Linked DNA regions of Homo sapiens: region 1 is linked to region 2. Evidence: fine-mapped expression QTL. A gene starts in region 2. The other region holds a variant in brackets. All regions are shown on one strand. Distances are from middle to middle. Region 1 overlaps CCDC15 (coiled-coil domain containing 15). Region 2 holds the start of CCDC15-DT (CCDC15 divergent transcript).

Region 1 (8,344 bases), 81 kb after region 2:
ATGTCATCAATGTAGTGGACCAGTGTGATATCTTGCGGAAGTGGAAAGTGATCAAGGTCTCTCTGAATAAGATTATGACACAAAGCCGGAGAGTTGATATACCCCTGAGGTAGGACAGTAAAGGTATATTGCTGGCCTTGCCAGCTGAAGGCAAATTGATTCTGTTGGACCTTATGCACAGGAGTGGAGAAAAAGGCATTTGCCTAGTCAGTGGCCACATACCAGGTACCAGAAGATGTGTTAATTTGCTCAAGCAATGAAACCACACCTGGTACAGCAGCTGCAGTTGAAGTCACCACTTGGTTAAGCTTATGATAATCCACTGTCATTCTCTAAGATCCATCTGTCTTCTGCACAGGCCAAATGGGAGAGTTGAATGAGGATGTGGTGGGAATCACCAACCCTGCATCTTTCGAGTCCTTATGGTGGCACTAATTGCCGCAATTCCTCCAGGGATGCAATATTGTTTTTGATTTACTATTTTTCTAGGTAGAGGCAGCTCTAATGGCTTCTATTTGGCCTTTCCCACCGTAATAGCCCTCACCCTACCAATCAGCCAATGTGGGGGTTCTGCCTGCTGCTGAGTATGTCTATGCCAATTATGCATTCTGGCACTGGGGAAATGACCACAGGATGAGTCTGGGGACCCACTGGACCCACTGTAAGTCAGACCTGAGCTAAAACTCCATTAATTACCTCACCTTCATAAGCCCCTTCTTTAACTGGAGGACCACAATGATGTTTTGGGCCCCTGGATTCAGTGTCAGCTCAGAGTCAGTGTCCAGTAGTCCCCGAAACGTCTGATTGTTTCCCTTTTCCCAGTGCACAGTTACCCTGGTAAAGTCCGGAGGTCTCCTTGGGGAAGGATGGGAGAAAGATTTATAGCATAAATTGTTGGTAGTATAGTGGGGTCCTTCCTCAAGGGGAGCAGACTTCCCCTTCATTCAAGAGGTTCTGAGTCTATAAACTGGCTCCAGTCTGGATATTGATTGAGGGGCCATGATTCTCTGTTTTTATATTTAAAATTAGTCTTTTGTCCACTTGACCTGGAATTTTTCTGCTTATATAAATTAAGTAGGAATGCAGTAGGATTCCTATCAATTTCACTTCTAGAAACACCGTGATTAATTAGCCAGTGCCAGAGCTCTGCATAAGTCAAACGATTCTGATTGTTGCTTTGCCTCTGCTGTCCATTATGGTAGCCGTGCCCATCTTGCCTTTGATGGTTGAGTGCTGCCACTTGGCCCTGCCATCTCGGGATCCAATTATTTCCATTGCATTTAAATTTTGTGGTTGAGTGACTGGGGTTCCCATTGTTAGATCTGGCATACATCAAGATCTTGAAGAGCAATCCTTACAGAGCTCTTCAAAGATGTAGGTGTTGCCCTCACAAATCTATTTTGGAAAGCATTGGTTAAGGATATATCTTCTGGACCCTCCCAGCTGGAATGAGAAGGTCTAAAGTGACTAATCCACTCCACCATTCCAATCTCTCTATACCTTTGGATCCCGTTCTAAACCAAGGGAGGAAATCAGGCATTTCCAGCTCGCTCACAGTGGGCCATCTTTTAAAAAGCTATATTTTAGCTAACCAAGCAGACAAACTATTAGAATCTTTTTTAACTCCCTGAGCTACAACATTAAATGTAGAATCCCTATTTAGTAGGCCCAAATCGACAAATTCACCTGATCAAACTCTATGTTCCTTCTATCATCATCCCACACCTTAATATCCATTCCCATGACTCTTCTCAAGATTTCTGCTTATATAAATTAGAGAACTCAAGCAGTTCTTTTTGAGTGTAGCACATCTCCTCATGGCCACACTCTGAACCTCACTTCTAGGAGCCTGCTAGGACTTTAGTCTTGTTATAGGTCTAGAAGCAAACAGAGGTGTTGGGGATAGCTCCTGAGGAGAATCAACTTATGTTGCCTGGCAACTGCCTCAGGGGAGGCCATCACTGTTGCCTCAGGCAGCACAGGGTTTATCCCCTCAGACAAAGGTGGAAAGGTTGATAGGAATGTGGGTCGGGGAGGGGATGTTGCCACTACTGGGGATGAGAAAGCTGTTTCTTCCGGCAAAAAAAATTCATCAGAGTTTACAAGCTCAGTGTCCCCAGTGTCATCAGGGTCCTCCCACATATCCCCATTCCCAGTTGCAAGGTCCCATTCTTTTCCAATCAATGCCCTCATTTTAACAGTAGACACCTGGCAAGGCTGTGCATGCACCTTTCATTGCAGGCCAGCCACTCGCGTGATAAAAGCTTGTGTCTGGTTTTCCACAGCTTCATCTCTTTCTCTTCAGGAGATAAGACTCTTACTCAGGGCAATCTTAGAAGATTTGAGGCTCAGTGTCTGCTTCTGAAGCCAGGAGTTAGCATCCCTGAGTTCATCATTTTCTTTCATCACTTTGTCCAGTGAACTTAGGAGCAACCAACCAACTTCATTATGTTCCTTGGTTCTCCACATATGGTCAAAGTTATTATGTACAGGGTCACTAAACTCCTTGCCTTTCATGAGCAGTGAATCAGGAGTGTCAAATGCATTTATTTTGCATAACTCTCTAAACAGTTCGTGCCAGGGACCATAGTGTTCTCCATACTATTAGAAGTAGAGTCCTTAACATTTTGGAGTCTAATCATATTTAGCAGCCAACTCCAGAAACCCCAAAACCAACAAAAGAACTCCATCCTTAATATTTGTTGGTACCAAAATCTGTATTACTCAGGATTCTCTAGAAAGACAGAACTATATATATGCATAGTTATATATATATAAACTCTCATATATATATGGGAGTTTATTAAGGAGTATTAATTCACACAATCACAAGGTCCCAAAATAGGCCATTTGCAAGCTGAGGAGCAAGGAAGCCAGTCTGAGTCCCAAAGCTGAAGAACTTGGAGTCTGATGTTGGAGGGCAGGAAGCATCCAGCATGGGAGAAAGATGTAGGCTGGGAGGCTAAGCCAGTCTAGTCTATTCACGTTCTTCTGCCTGGTTTTTATTCTGGCCACGCTGGCAGTTGATAAGATTGTGCCCACTCAGATTAAGGGTGGGTCTGCCTTTTCCAGTCCACTGGCTCAAATGTTAATCTCTTTTGGCCACACCCTCACAGAAACAGTCAGGAATAATACTTTACATCCTTCAATTCAATCAAGTTGACAGTATTAACCATCACAATGACCTTCTTTGTCTTTTTTTATAGTTTTTGTCTTGAAATCTATTTTGTCTGATATTAGTATAGCTACTCCTGCTCTTTTTTGGTTTCTATTTGCATGGAATATTTTTTCCATCTCTTTATTTTCAGCCTATATGTGTCTTTGTAGATGAAGTATGTTTCTTGCAGGCAAGGAATTGTTGGATCTTATTTTGTAACCTATTCAGCCACTCAACATCTTTTGTTTGGAGAGTTTAGTTTATTTACATTCAATGTTATCATTGTTAAGTAAGGACTTACTTCTGCCATTTTGTTACTTTTTTTTCTGGTTGTTTCATGGTCTTCTTTCTTCTTCTTTCCTGTCTTTTAGTGAAGGTGATTTTCTCTGATGACATGTTTTAATTTATTGCTTTTTATATTTTGTGTTATCTGTTGTATGTTTCCAAATATGAAGTTACGATGAGGCTTGCAAATAATATCTTATAACCTGTTGTTTTAAACTGATGACAACTTAACAGTGATTACATAAACAAACTAACAAGTAAAGAGAAAACTAATAAAAACTCTACACTTTAACATCATGCCCCTACTTTTAACTTTTTATTGTTTCTACTTATATTTTATTGTACTATGTCTTGAAAAGTTGTAATTATTATTTTTGATCAGTTCATCTTTTAGTCTTCCCACTCAAGATATGAGTAGCTTACACACCACAATTACAGTGTTTTGATATTCTGTCTTTTTGTGTACTTACTATTACTAGTGAGTTTTGTGCCTTCGGATAATTTCTTATTTTTTATTAAGGTGCTTTTCTTTCAGATTAAAGAACTCCCTTTAGCTTTCTCA[T/C]AGGATAGGTCTGGTGTTGATGAAATCTCTCAGCTTTTGTTTGTCTGGGAAAGTCTTGAATTCTCCTTCATGTTTGAATAATATTTTCACCAGACATACTATTCTGCAATAAAAGTTCTTTTTCCTTTGGCACTTTCAATATATTATGTCACTCTTTCCTGGCCTGCAAGGCTTCCACTGAGAAGTCTGCTGCTAGGCATATTGAAGCTCCACTATATGTTATTTGTTTCTTTTCCTACTTTTAGAATCCTTTCTTTATTATTGACCTTTGGGAGTTTGATTATTGAATGTCTTGAGTTAATGTTATTTGGGTCAAATCTGCTCAGTAACCTTCTTGCACTTGAATATTGATATCTTTCTCTAGGTTTGGGAAGTTTTCTGTTATTATCCCTTTGAATAAACTTTCTACCCTCATCTTTCGATTTCCTCCTCAAGGCCCAAAACTCTTAGATTTGCCCTTTTGAAGTTACTTTCTAGGTATCATAGGCATACTTTCATTCTCTTCTATTCTTCTTCCTTTTGTCTCCTATAACTGTGTATTTTCAAATAGCCTGTCTTCAAGCTCACTAATTCTTTCTTCTGCTTGATTAATTCCACTATTAACAGACTGTGATGCATTCTTTAGTATTTCAGTTGCAGTTTTTAACTCCAGAATTTCTACTTGATTCTTTTAAATTATTTCAATCTCTTTATTAAATTTATCTGATAGGATTCTGAATTCCTCTCTGTGTTCTCTTGAATTTCTTTGAGTTTCCTCAAAACAGCCATTTTGAATTATCTGTCTGAAAGGTCACACATCTGTGTCTCTCTGGGATTAGTCACTGGTGACTTATTTAGTTCTTTTGGTGAGGTCATATTTCCTGAGTAGTCTTGATGCTTGTGGATGTTCACTGGAGTCTGGGCTTTTTTTCTGCCTCTTTGTGTGCTTAGTAATCTTTGGTTAGATGCCCAACGTTATGAGTTTTACCATGTTAGTTGCTGGATGTCTTTACATTATTGAACCTGGTTTTGGTATACAGTCAAGTTCATTTGATGACTTGCTTTTATAACTTGTTAGGTGGGTCTGGTGCAGTACTCAGTCTGGGACTAGTGTTTATTCCCTACTGCTCAGATAAGATCATTCTGAATACTCTACCTAATGTTCTGTGAAATACAAGTTTTTCAAGTTTGATTGGTGGAAATAAGGACAAATTATTCCTGGAGCTAGGTGGACTCTAGTCACTGTTCTCTTTTATTTTGGATTGTTCTCTTCCTAGCCTCAGGTTATTTCATTGCATACATGCACCAATCAGTGCTCTGCTGTGTACCAGGAGACTCTCTGTTCATTTCTGGGGTGCTGTCTCTGGGCAGCTTTCTTCTCTCTGGTACTTTGTCCTGTGAACTCTAACTGCCTTTGTCTCTCTGCACTCTTAACTCCATCTCTTCAATTCTTAGAGCCCATCAGGCTTCACTTCAATTTCCCTGCCCTGTGCCACTGCCTGGAACCTTCCAAGGCAGTAATCTCTAGCAGTTATAGGGTTTACTTCACTTGTTTCCCATCTGTCAAGGAGCAGTGTTGTTTGTTACCTGGTGTCCAATGTCTTGAAAACCATCATTTCTTGTATTTGTTTGATTTGTGTACTTTTTAAAACTTTTTAAATTTTTTTGGTGGTTTAAGGTTGGAGGGCAAATGCGGTCCCTGTTACTCTGTTTTGGTCAGAAGCAGAATCCCTGTTTACTTGTAGTTTCAATCTGAAAAGACTGTTTTGCTACATTCTTACAGAAAAACTGTTTTTTTTTTTTTTGAGATATGGGGTCTGGCTCTGTTGCCCAGGCTGGAGTGCAGTGGTGCAATTTCAGCTCACTGCAACCTCTGCCTCCTGAGTTCAAGTGATCCTCTGGCCTCAGCCTCCTGAGTAGCTGGGATTACAGGCCCGTGCCACCACTGCCTGGCTAATTTTTGTATTTTTAGTAGAGATGGGTTTTCACCATGTTGGCCAGGCTGATCTGAAACTCCTGGCCTCATATGATCCATCTGCTTCGGCCTCTCAGAGTGCTGGGATTACAGGCATGAGCCACCGCACCTAGCCAGGAAGAACTCTTTTAATAGTAGCCATTGCTCATTTCTCTTTGGGAGGAGATAAAGCAGCCAGCAGAAATTTTTGAGGATATTCTTGGGATATTAAACTGATTTCCTGACTCCTTAGTTTCTGGGAATTTCTGGGAGTTATTTGGATAAAGAAGCTAATTTTAAATAATAATTTTATGAAATTCCTAACCATGTTATGATTTTATTTTCAGAATTAAGAAAAAGAGAGAGCAAGAATGTTATGCTGCAGAGCAGAGGATCCTAAGAATGAACTTTCATGAAGATCCATATTCAGGAGAGAAGTTGAGTGAGATATTAGCCCAGTTACAACTTCAAGAAATAAAAGGAACCAGAGAAAAACAACAGAGAGAAAAAGAATACCTGAGGTAATTTGAAAAGGTCTTCATGATATTTTGGCTCTAGAAGAGACTTGGTAGAACTCATTGTTCTCATTTTCCTTAGAAGAGAATTGACTGTGTCTTTTCATACTTTTCCTCATTTAGGAGTTCATAACTTCACCAAATTTTTTGATTGCCTAATACTTCTTGGGTGTAGCCCTGCGTTTTTCCCAGTACAAAGAGGAAATGTCAAGGCCCAGAGATACGGAATAGATTTAACAGTTAAATCTGGCTGTAAAATCAGGATTCATACTCACTTTCTTTTTAATAGTTCACTTTGCCTGATTATACTTTATTTGTACAGATATGTAGAAGCTTTACGAGCCCAAATCCAGGAGAAAATGCAGCTGTATAATATTACTTTACCTCCACTATGCTGTTGTGGTCCTGATTTTTGGGATGCTCATCCTGATACCTGTGCCAACAACTGTATTTTCTATAAAAACCACAGAGGTAAGTTTCTTGAAGGAATAGTCAGGGCCTAATGGCAACAAGAAAAATAAATAAGAGTAGTGGTAATAGTAATTTACCATTTATTGAGTGCTTACTATGTATCAGAGACTGTTATAAACCCTTTACAAAATAACTATATGAGGCAGTGAAAAAATTATAATGAGTTATATTTCTCTTTGAGATCTGTTATCTTCTTGTCTCCATTTATGCTGGGGAAATATTTTCAGCTCATTCTACTGTAGGAGGTCTTGAGTTTCAGGTCCTTTAACTGAAGACTATTAGAATTTGCCTTTTATGTAAGTTAGGACTCTATCCAGTTGAATTCCCTATTACTCAAATACTTTAATGGTATGTAACATGGACGTATTACCATATATATCCACATTAGATTGCTAGTTCTGCCAGGAGGCACTGAGAAAAATAAGAAACAGTATAAACTCTATCAGGAGTCCCAGCTAGAGAAAACTTAGTCCTTCATATTGTCATTAATATTTCTGTTTCCTATCCATCCTTAAATATATTGATTTATATAGTATAAAGATTATGTAGCCCTCATGTATACACTAGGAATACTGCCAGTATATATATTCCTAGTGCTTCATCTGTATAATACAAGTTTCTTATCAGCTTTATTTTAAAAAACACAAATCTAATTATGCCATTTCCCTATTCTAAAACCTCTAGGGCTACCCACTGCAGTATAAGATGCATGGCATGTTTGGTATATTTTCTCTCTGGCTCTGGGCCCTACTCTAGCCTTATCAAAGTTGCTATTCCCAGTATGTGCCATATTGTTTACTCCTTTTGCACCTCACACTCAGTTCTCTGTGTTCTTTCCTTTACTCTTGTTATTTCTTCATAACTCGTCTTAAGTGTTAACCACTTCTGGGAATCTTTGCCATCCTGTCCTAGGTAGTTGTGCATTCATTCCCAACTTCATTCTATGATGACATTTGTTGTTGTTGTTTGTTTTTTTGTTTTTGTTTTTTTTTTTCCGAGACAGCCTCACTCTGTCGCCCAGGCCAGAGTGCAGTGGCACGATCTCGGCTCACTGCAACCTCTGCCTCCTGGGTTCAAGCGCCTCAGCCTACCGAATATCTGGGATTACAGGTTTGTGCCACCACATCCAGCTAATTTTTGTATTTTTAGTAGATACGGGGGTTTGCCATGTTGGCCAGGCTGATCTCGAACTCCTGACCTCAAGTGATCCGCCTGCCTCAGCCTCCCAAAGTGCTGGAATTACAGGTGTGAGCCACTGTGCCTGGCCTATGATGACATTTTGTATATACCTTTGGTTTGGAAGTATTACATGGCAACTTAATTATTTTTGTGTCCATACTCTTTATTATTTTTTCTGTCCTCACAGAGTGCTTGTCATATAGTAAGTACTGAATAAATATTTATTCAATAGATAGTTACTT
Region 2 (8,344 bases):
CTGGGTGGAGGTGGGATGGGTTTCCTTCTTGCTATTCAGTTACTCAGTGCTTTTGCTAAACCACATCCTCCCTTTTTCTTAACCTCACCTCCAACTTTGAACCTCATGTCACCAGAATATACCATGCTTGGGTTTCCAAGCTATACTTACCCACCAACCTCCAAGCCTTTTCAAGATTGTTGCTTCTGGCTTTCTCCAACATCATTCTTGTTATATTTTTTGGTGATTTCAGTATCCTCATGGATCATCCAATCAATGCTCTGGTGTTTGGTTTCTATGACCTCTTCTCCAGTGATCTTGTTCTTTAACCCACCTTAGCTTTCCCTCCTTTGGTCATACCATAGACTTTGACAGCACCAATAACCACAACCTCTGCATACACTCAGCTCCAAGCAGCCTACTCTCAGACCACCTCTTATCTTAGCACATTCTTTTGAGTATCCTGTTCTAACAAACTTTAGACCACCACAGGAACCTACAACTTCTTGACTCTACCAACTTTTCATAGTCCCTTACCTCCTACTTCTCTCATTGTATAACAAATGACCCTCAAATTTAGCATCTTAATACAACAAACATTATCTCACACAGTTTCTCGTTGGGCGGTCTGGCTCAGGGTCTCTTATGAGGTTGCAGTCAATTGTTGGCTGAGTACAGTCTCTGAAGACTTGATTAGGGCTGGAGGGTCTACTTCCAAGTTCTTTCACAGGGCAGCTGGCAGAATGTTTCAGTTTCTTGCCATGTGATCCTCTTTATAGAACTGCTAATGATGTACATGGCTTCCCTCAGAACAAGAGATCTGAGAGGGAGGGAGGGAGGGAAGGAGGGAGGGAGAGAGAGTGAGCGAGCCCATGTGAGCATATCTCTTATAACCTAACCTCTGTAGTAATATACCATCCCTTCTGCCATATTCTGTTGGTCATACAGTCCAACCTAGGTACAATGTGGGAGGGGACTACACAAAGGTGTGAACACCAAGAGGTGGGGATCATTAGGGGCCATCTTGGAGGTTGGCTACAATACTATTTTACAGAGAAAACAGAGTAATCAGAAGAGAATTTCCATAAGCTCCTGCCACCACATTACCTAATTATCAGTTTACTGTGTATTCTAACTTTTCTGCTATTATTATAATTAACCATACCTCCTGCTATCTAAGGCCAATCCCTCCACTTGTTCACTAAATTCCATTTCCTCTATGAGGTTTGCACAAAGACAAAATCACCTAACATTTATCAAAATGTATCCCCATCTTTAAGTGACACATGACTGTAGATCCCTAAATTCTCCCATATCTCTCCCGCATCATTAGTTTTCTCCTGTCTATTGGTTAATTTCCATCAATAACAAATATATGCTATGATCTTAAAGAACTCTCCAATGATCCTACCTCTACGTTCAGCCACCTCTTTCGCTGTGTCCCTTCACAACAAAATTCATGGAAAGAATTGTCTAAAATTGCTGTCTCCAATTCCTTCTCCTACTCTTTCTTGCCTAGCCCATCAGGCTTTTGCTCTCCAACTACTCTAAAGACACTGCTCTTTTAAAAGTTATCAATCACTTCCACATGGTCAAATCCAATAGTCAATTTTCAGTCCTTACCTTATTTGATCTGTCAGTAGGATTTAACACAGATTGTCTGCCCTCAATGGAACATTTCTTTTTCACCTGGCTTTCAAGGTATCACACCCTCATAGTTTTCTTCCTTGGTTTACTGATTAATCCTTCTCAATCTCTTAGCATTCTCCTCCTCTTTTTCTCAGCCTCTGTAATACTGACATACCCTGGGGCTGTTTTAGGATTTATTCTTTTATCTGTCTATATTCAACCCCTTGATGACTCCATCCAGTCTCATGGCTTTAAATCTACAGGCTAACGACTCTTAGATTTATATTTGTAGCCCAGAACCCTTCTCTGAGCTCCAGACACTTTTTCTCATACTATCTTCTCGGATGTTGATTAGATAAAACTTTATCTGCCCCAAACTGAACTCCTGATCTTCCCCTTTCCAAATCTACTCCTTCCACCATCTTCACTATCTCAGTAAATAGTAATTTCATCCTGACAGCTGCTCAGGATGAAACCCCTAGTTTTCCTTGACATCTCTCCCTCACACAATCCATATCCAAACCTTCAACAGATCCTGAAAGTTTTGCCTCCCAAATAGATACAGAATCCAACCACTTATCATCATCTCCACCACTACCTCCTTGATCCAAGACATCACAATCCCTTAACTGAATTATTGCAATAGCCACCTAATTGGTCTTCTTTACAGTCTATTCTCACTACAGCATTCGGAATTATTATTTTTTTAATTTTGTCACATTATGGTGTTCCTTTGCTCCAAACCTTGCTCCAGTGGCTCCCCATCTCAACACCTATGGTGGCTTACGATGTTTGATCGGATTGCCTGCTTGACCTACTGTCTCAGCATTCTTCCACTCTCCCTCTGCTCCAGTCACACTATCCTCCTGACTTTTTCTCAACCAGGCAATGCTTCCACCTTGGGGCGTTTATACTTGCTGTTATATCTGGAACATGTTTATAAAGCCTCCGTTGAAGAGCACAGTGGCTTCTTCCATTAACTCATTTAAGTCTTTGCTGAAAAGTATCTCAGTGCAGCTTCTCTGGACGTTCTAATATTTCATCCCTCCAATCCCCACCCTGCCCACCACACTCCCTATCCGCTTTCTTTGCTTTTACTCCACATCACACACATTTACTTACTCATTGTTTATTCGCTTATTTCCCCTCACTCTATTGTGAATTCCCTGAGCAGGGATATTTGTTTCGTTCATAGCTATGTATCTCCGGTGCTTGGAACAGTACTGGTTTATAAAAAGTTAGTAGTAATGTATGTTAATCGAATGAATAAATTATCCTACAGAGATAATTGAGTGTCTCTGGATTACAGCAGAGCTTGCAGCAGAGAGGGAGACCACTCAACAGGCCGTGATGTCCAAATATAATAAGATGTATGAAACAGTACTGTAAAATTAGCTGCACAAAGGATCCGAAAAATTTGTTAGCTTAGTTTGTTTCTCCAGGAAGCCGTGCCAGGCTCGCCTCCCTCTTTCATTCTTTTCCCGTGATTCCCTCTACTGGGACTCCTGACCCTCCTAGTCGCCAGATCACAGGCCCAACGCATCCCTTTCCGGAGGGATTTAGGAAGTCTCGGCGTTGGTCCAGGAACGACAGTCCCACCGCGCCTCACATGGCGCATTACCCAGCGACTCCGCTTACCCACACGTCCCCGCCCCCTCAGCCGGACAGGAAGAGGAAATGACGATACCTCGGGCGCTCGAAACTCCACCTCTCACGCCTTCCCAGCTCCGGGAGGGGACGCGGGCTCCGGAAAGGGCGGGCATAAGGCTACGGATGGGCGGGACGGAGCAGCCCACCGCAAAGTGGCGGTCTACTTGAGGCGGTTACCTTAGTACTCCGAGTAGACTGAGTCTGTGGCGAGCTGCGGGCCGATTCCTGGCCAGTGCCATCTCAGCCGGAGCAGGCCTCGGGGCCTCAGAAGCAGGCTTTTATCTGGCCCGAGGCTCCCAGCCGTTCAGCGCGTCTTCCCATAACCTATACCGATTATTGGGACTCTCGGCTGCAGACACAGGTCCCCGCCCCTCCCTCTTTCTCCGGGTTGCAGCTGTCATTCCTCCCTTCCCGCCTCGCTGCGCCCACAGCTGAGGACAGTCTTCGTTCTCTCATTCCCATCCTTTCTCTTCCCTCTCATCGCCATTTCTTCTAGAAGGCAACTTAAAAACCTTTCTTTGCCTCTTTATTTCTTCCCATTTCTCTTCCCTTCTTTTCTTCCTTTTTCTCTAGAATCCGTGTGTTTCCACTTCATGCCAGGCTTCTGCCTCCAGGGCTTCTCTCCTTTTCACGGGCCTGTGGCTCATGTGTTAGGAGGTTGAACTTTTAATGCAGTCATTTGAAGATTTTAAGCTTTTTCTTTCTCCTAATCAGGAGTCACAGATGCTGGGAAGTATGGCCCGAAAGAAACCTCGAAATACCTCAAGGTTGCCCCTGGCTTTAAACCCCCTGAAGAGCAAGGACGTGTTGGCAGTGCTGGCTGAGAGGAACGAGGCTATAGTACCAGTTGGGGCATGGGTGGAACCTGCCTCACCAGGTAGTTCGGAAATCCCAGCATATGTGAGTGTCAGTTTGATCCAAATATGGTGGGGTTCCCCACCACCCTTTTTATTAGCCTTCTCTAATCCTGGGTGCTTAAAGATGAACAGTCCGAGGATGCTGTTTCTATTCTGCCATAAATAGTTTATGCTCTTGCATTAGGATTATAGAACAAGTATTTGCCAAAACTTGACTGCAGCTTTAGTTGGCATAATCAAATATTTATTACTCACCTACTATAATATATAGAGCATAATCTACATGGAACAGGTTATATAGATATATATCTGTATATCAGTTTACTTCAGACTCTTGATTGCTTGTTATGCCCAAGACATAAGCACTATCTACATCTTCCAGACACTGCAACTTAGTATGGATGATAGTTGGCATACTTCAAGTAACATTAATTGGTTGCTTAAGGTTTATGATAAATTTTGTAATGAGGATTCAGGCAAAATGGAGTAATAGAATAAAGGAGAAAGAGATGAACTCTGATAATCTGAGAAAGTCTAACTAGAAATTCCATGGTTTCTGATAGTCTTTCACCAAACTGTGCCCCTTAGCTATTTGTTCAAATTTAACTTGGCACTTACCACATTGTGTTATAGTAGATTGTTTATATATCTTTTCCTGATGCAGTGTGAGCTCCTTGAGCGTAGAGAACAAATGTCATTTATCATCACATTCCCACTTTTATCTTAAATACTGCCTAATCAATATAGACACTCATGAAGTATTTATGAAAGGCACAAAATGTCTTCTGTATGTGTAGACAAGGTGCTGAACATGGATGAAAAAAGGATGAGATATGTTCCCTCAGTGTACTTGATCTCAGAAGAGAAATGAGATGTGTTTAAATGTTAAAGTAATGCAATATACTATATTCATTTTATTTATGTTTGCACATATGTATGTATATTCATTGATTTATTCCTACCCTGCCTATTTCCAAAAAGGATTTTAAGAGTCTAGGTGGTATCTCTATCTAAGTTCTAAGAATATAATGCTCAATCAAGAAGCTATGACGTTGGGTTGATGTGACCCAGGAAAGTGTAATGAAGAATTTGATCGGAGAAGGGAAGGGAATGATTCTCCTATTAAGGAGAATGAGGAGAGTAAGAAGTAAGCAAGGTTCAGGATTCTAAGGGTAGATTAGATCGATTGGAGTGGAAAGCTTAGTAGGAGAATGGTTGCTGACAGGATTATGGAAAATAGGGATGGTAGAGTACCTTAGGAAATTTTGGAGAAGGGATTGACTTTGTTTAATATTTACAGGTGAATGTCATGATCAACCAGTGTTTTCTTTAGATGAATTGCTTCAAAGGTTTTGAAGGATAGGGAGTGATTGGATCCTGGGGATAAATTAGAATATAATTATAATAATTTAAGCATGGAGTATAGCATCGAAACTTTGTTAGTGGTAAGAAATAGAGAAGAACAGCCTTGAAAAAGGATGATTGAAGTGCTTGAGCCCACGAATTGTAGGCTGCAGTGAACTATGATCATACTACTGCACTCTAGCCTGGGCAATAGAGTGAGACCCCATCTCTGGAAAAAAAAAAGGAGTGGAATGAGAAGGGATGAATGCAGGAAACACCCCACAAGACTTGGTAAGATTTGGTATAAAGATATTTTGGTATTTAAGTTGTTGACACCTCTTTGTAATTGCTCAAATTACATCTGTATAATATCAGTAGTGTCAACATGCCTAAAATTTGACACCATCAAACTTTTTCTATGTTAAGAAGTATTGACTATCGTATTCACACACATTAACTCAAAATATTAAAGTCTTGGAACATGGATAAACATATCTCCTTTTCCTGATTTAAAAATTTCTGATCAGTTCCAGCCAAAGGGAGTTTGATCAAGCATCTAATAGAACTCCTTATAGCTTTAGCATATCTAGTCTGGGTATCCACCCTTATTAACGGATATAGCTCTGTCAGCTCAAAATAAATGCTGAATAGTTACTTCTAAAGCTTGGCCCTTAGATCATGTCTGTTCTAAAGGGGAACTTCTACTCATTTTTCTCCCCAAAATTTCAGGGGGCCATCAGGATTCCTAAAAATGTCATAGCTTTAGACTACCTCCCCCCAATAATTATTAATAAATTAGCATCAAAAGACACTGCTGTTCTATCATCATATATGGGATTGCATTATTTTATAATTTGTTCTGGTTACCTTTTGCTGTGTAACCAACCACCCCAGAACTTAGTGGTATAAAGCAAATAATACTATGTAACAGGAATTTGAGCAGGGTACAGTGGTAATGGCTTGTTTCTGCCCCATAGTGTCTGGGACCTCAGCTGGGGCTCAAATAACTGGACATGTCTGAGACACCTTGACTATTTTCCGGCTATTGGCTGGAGCTAGACAATAGTCAAGTTCTCCCAGTAATGTGGCACCTGCTGGGCTGTAATGTCCAAGATGGCTTTCTTATTCACATATCTGACGCTTGGCCTAGGATGACTAGAATGTCTGGGTGCTGGTTAGATATGTTTCTCTTTTCACATGGCTTCTCTGTTTGACTAACTTGGGCTTCCTCACAGCATGGTAATCTCAGGGTAGTCTGAATTTTTATATGGTGCTGACTTCCTTCAGAATGAGCACTCTAAGAACAGAGGTGGAAGTTTCTTTATGACCTGGCTTGTAATCTTGTGGAGTAAAAGAGGAGCAGAGAAAATGGAGGTAAAAGAAAGAGGCCGAATGGCTTAAACTTGTCTGGGGCTTGAGTTAAGCTGGGTCAGTTGTTCAGGCTTCATTACGTATATATCTCTCCGTTGGAATTATTTTACCTAATTGTTCTTTGACACTTGTACACTCCACTAGAGTAGTTTATGGGATAGACATCTTGGAAATTTTAACTTAAATTGAAATTTGAATGCATTTGATTTTGAGAATTTAATGACAGCCTGTAAAATGATCTGAGGTACCCTTCAGAATTAGAAGTTGGAATCACTGAGTTAGAAGGAATAGGTACGAGATATGATGATGATTTTATTTAATTTGAAAATTCCTAGTGAAAGAGAGACATAGTCAAGAGAAAAGCAGTGTAGAGAGGAACATAATTGTTGGAGTCAGAAACTTCTAATTCTGCTACTAGTTAGCTATATTAAAATTACTTAATCTTTCTGAACTCCAGCTTCCTCATCTGTAACATAAGGGATAAGAATACCTACTGCCAAAGGTGGTTTTGAGGATAGAGTGCTACAAAGTAGTTAAAATACTTGTCACCTGATAGATCCATAATAATGATAAGTGCTGTTATGATGATGACTATGATTATTATTCAAAGCACTTAGAGGAGATAAATGCAGATCAAGAACTCAAATGGGATAAAGTGTTCCAGATTGTTCAGAACAAGCTTGTCCAACATGCGGCCATGGGCCACATGTGGCCCAGGATGGCTTTGAATGCGACCCAATGTAAATTAATAAATTTTCTTAATTAACACTATGAGTTTTTTTGTGATTTTTTTTTTTCTCATCAGCTACTAGTGTTAATGTATTTTATGTGACAGTTCTTCCAACATGGCCCAGGGAAGCCAAAATATTGGACACCCCTGGTTTAGAATATGTTTTGGAATTGAGCAATTATATAAATATATATTGACTACCCTTATAGTGAAGGCTCTGTACTAGATGCCGTAGGGGAAATAAAGGAGAATTGAATACATATCCTGTCCTCAAAGAGTTCATAATCTAGTAGGGGAGTCAAGAAGTACTATACTCAGTTAACATTGGTGAAATGAGAGGTGTTATAGCATAAGAGGGCTTAGAGAGAGAGTGTTGTGGAAGGTACTGGGGAGTGGGTATTAAATGGTTGTGAAAACTGAATAGGCCTTTACTAGGTGGAGATGAAAGGAAGGGCATGCCAGGTTAAAAATGGAGCATAATGCCAAATATGAAGACATTTTAACAATAGGACATATTTGGTGAGTGGTAAGTAACCTGGTGTGTCTTGACTATTTACTCCATTTTAGAAAATGTGTAACGTGTTAGGTTTTATTTGGTTCATTAAGATTTAATGAAGACATCGTTAGTTCTAATTCAATAAAAAATTTAAGATTTGATACTCATACATTCCATTTTTTTTTGTACAGAATGGAATTATTTTTTTCAGGATTGTATCCTTATCCTGACTGTTTTGTGTTTAAAACAGCCCTAATGGACAAAACTGCTAACATTTAAGTTCATTTT

The links.
Region 1: its variant is fine-mapped to the expression of CCDC15-DT in cerebellar hemisphere (GTEx, PIP 0.96).

The regions. Positions count from the first base shown.
Region 1 is chr11:125,032,147-125,040,490 of GRCh38, forward strand. CCDC15 (coiled-coil domain containing 15) reads left to right here. Exons shown (of 16, transcript NM_025004.3): 14 at 6,285-6,458; 15 at 6,775-6,923. Among named protein-coding and RNA genes, the nearest start is that of SLC37A2, 27 kb to the right of the region's middle. The variant T/C (reference allele first, on the strand shown) is at 4,005.
Region 2 is chr11:124,950,752-124,959,095 of GRCh38, forward strand. CCDC15-DT (CCDC15 divergent transcript) reads right to left here and starts at 3,240. Exons shown (of 3, transcript XR_948134.3): 1 at 2,731-3,240; 2 at 588-799. It overlaps CCDC15 (coiled-coil domain containing 15), which reads left to right and starts at 3,451. Exons shown (of 16, transcript NM_025004.3): 1 at 3,451-3,619; 2 at 3,973-4,158. The coding sequence starts at 3,982. RefSeq lists an enhancer at 3,111-3,654.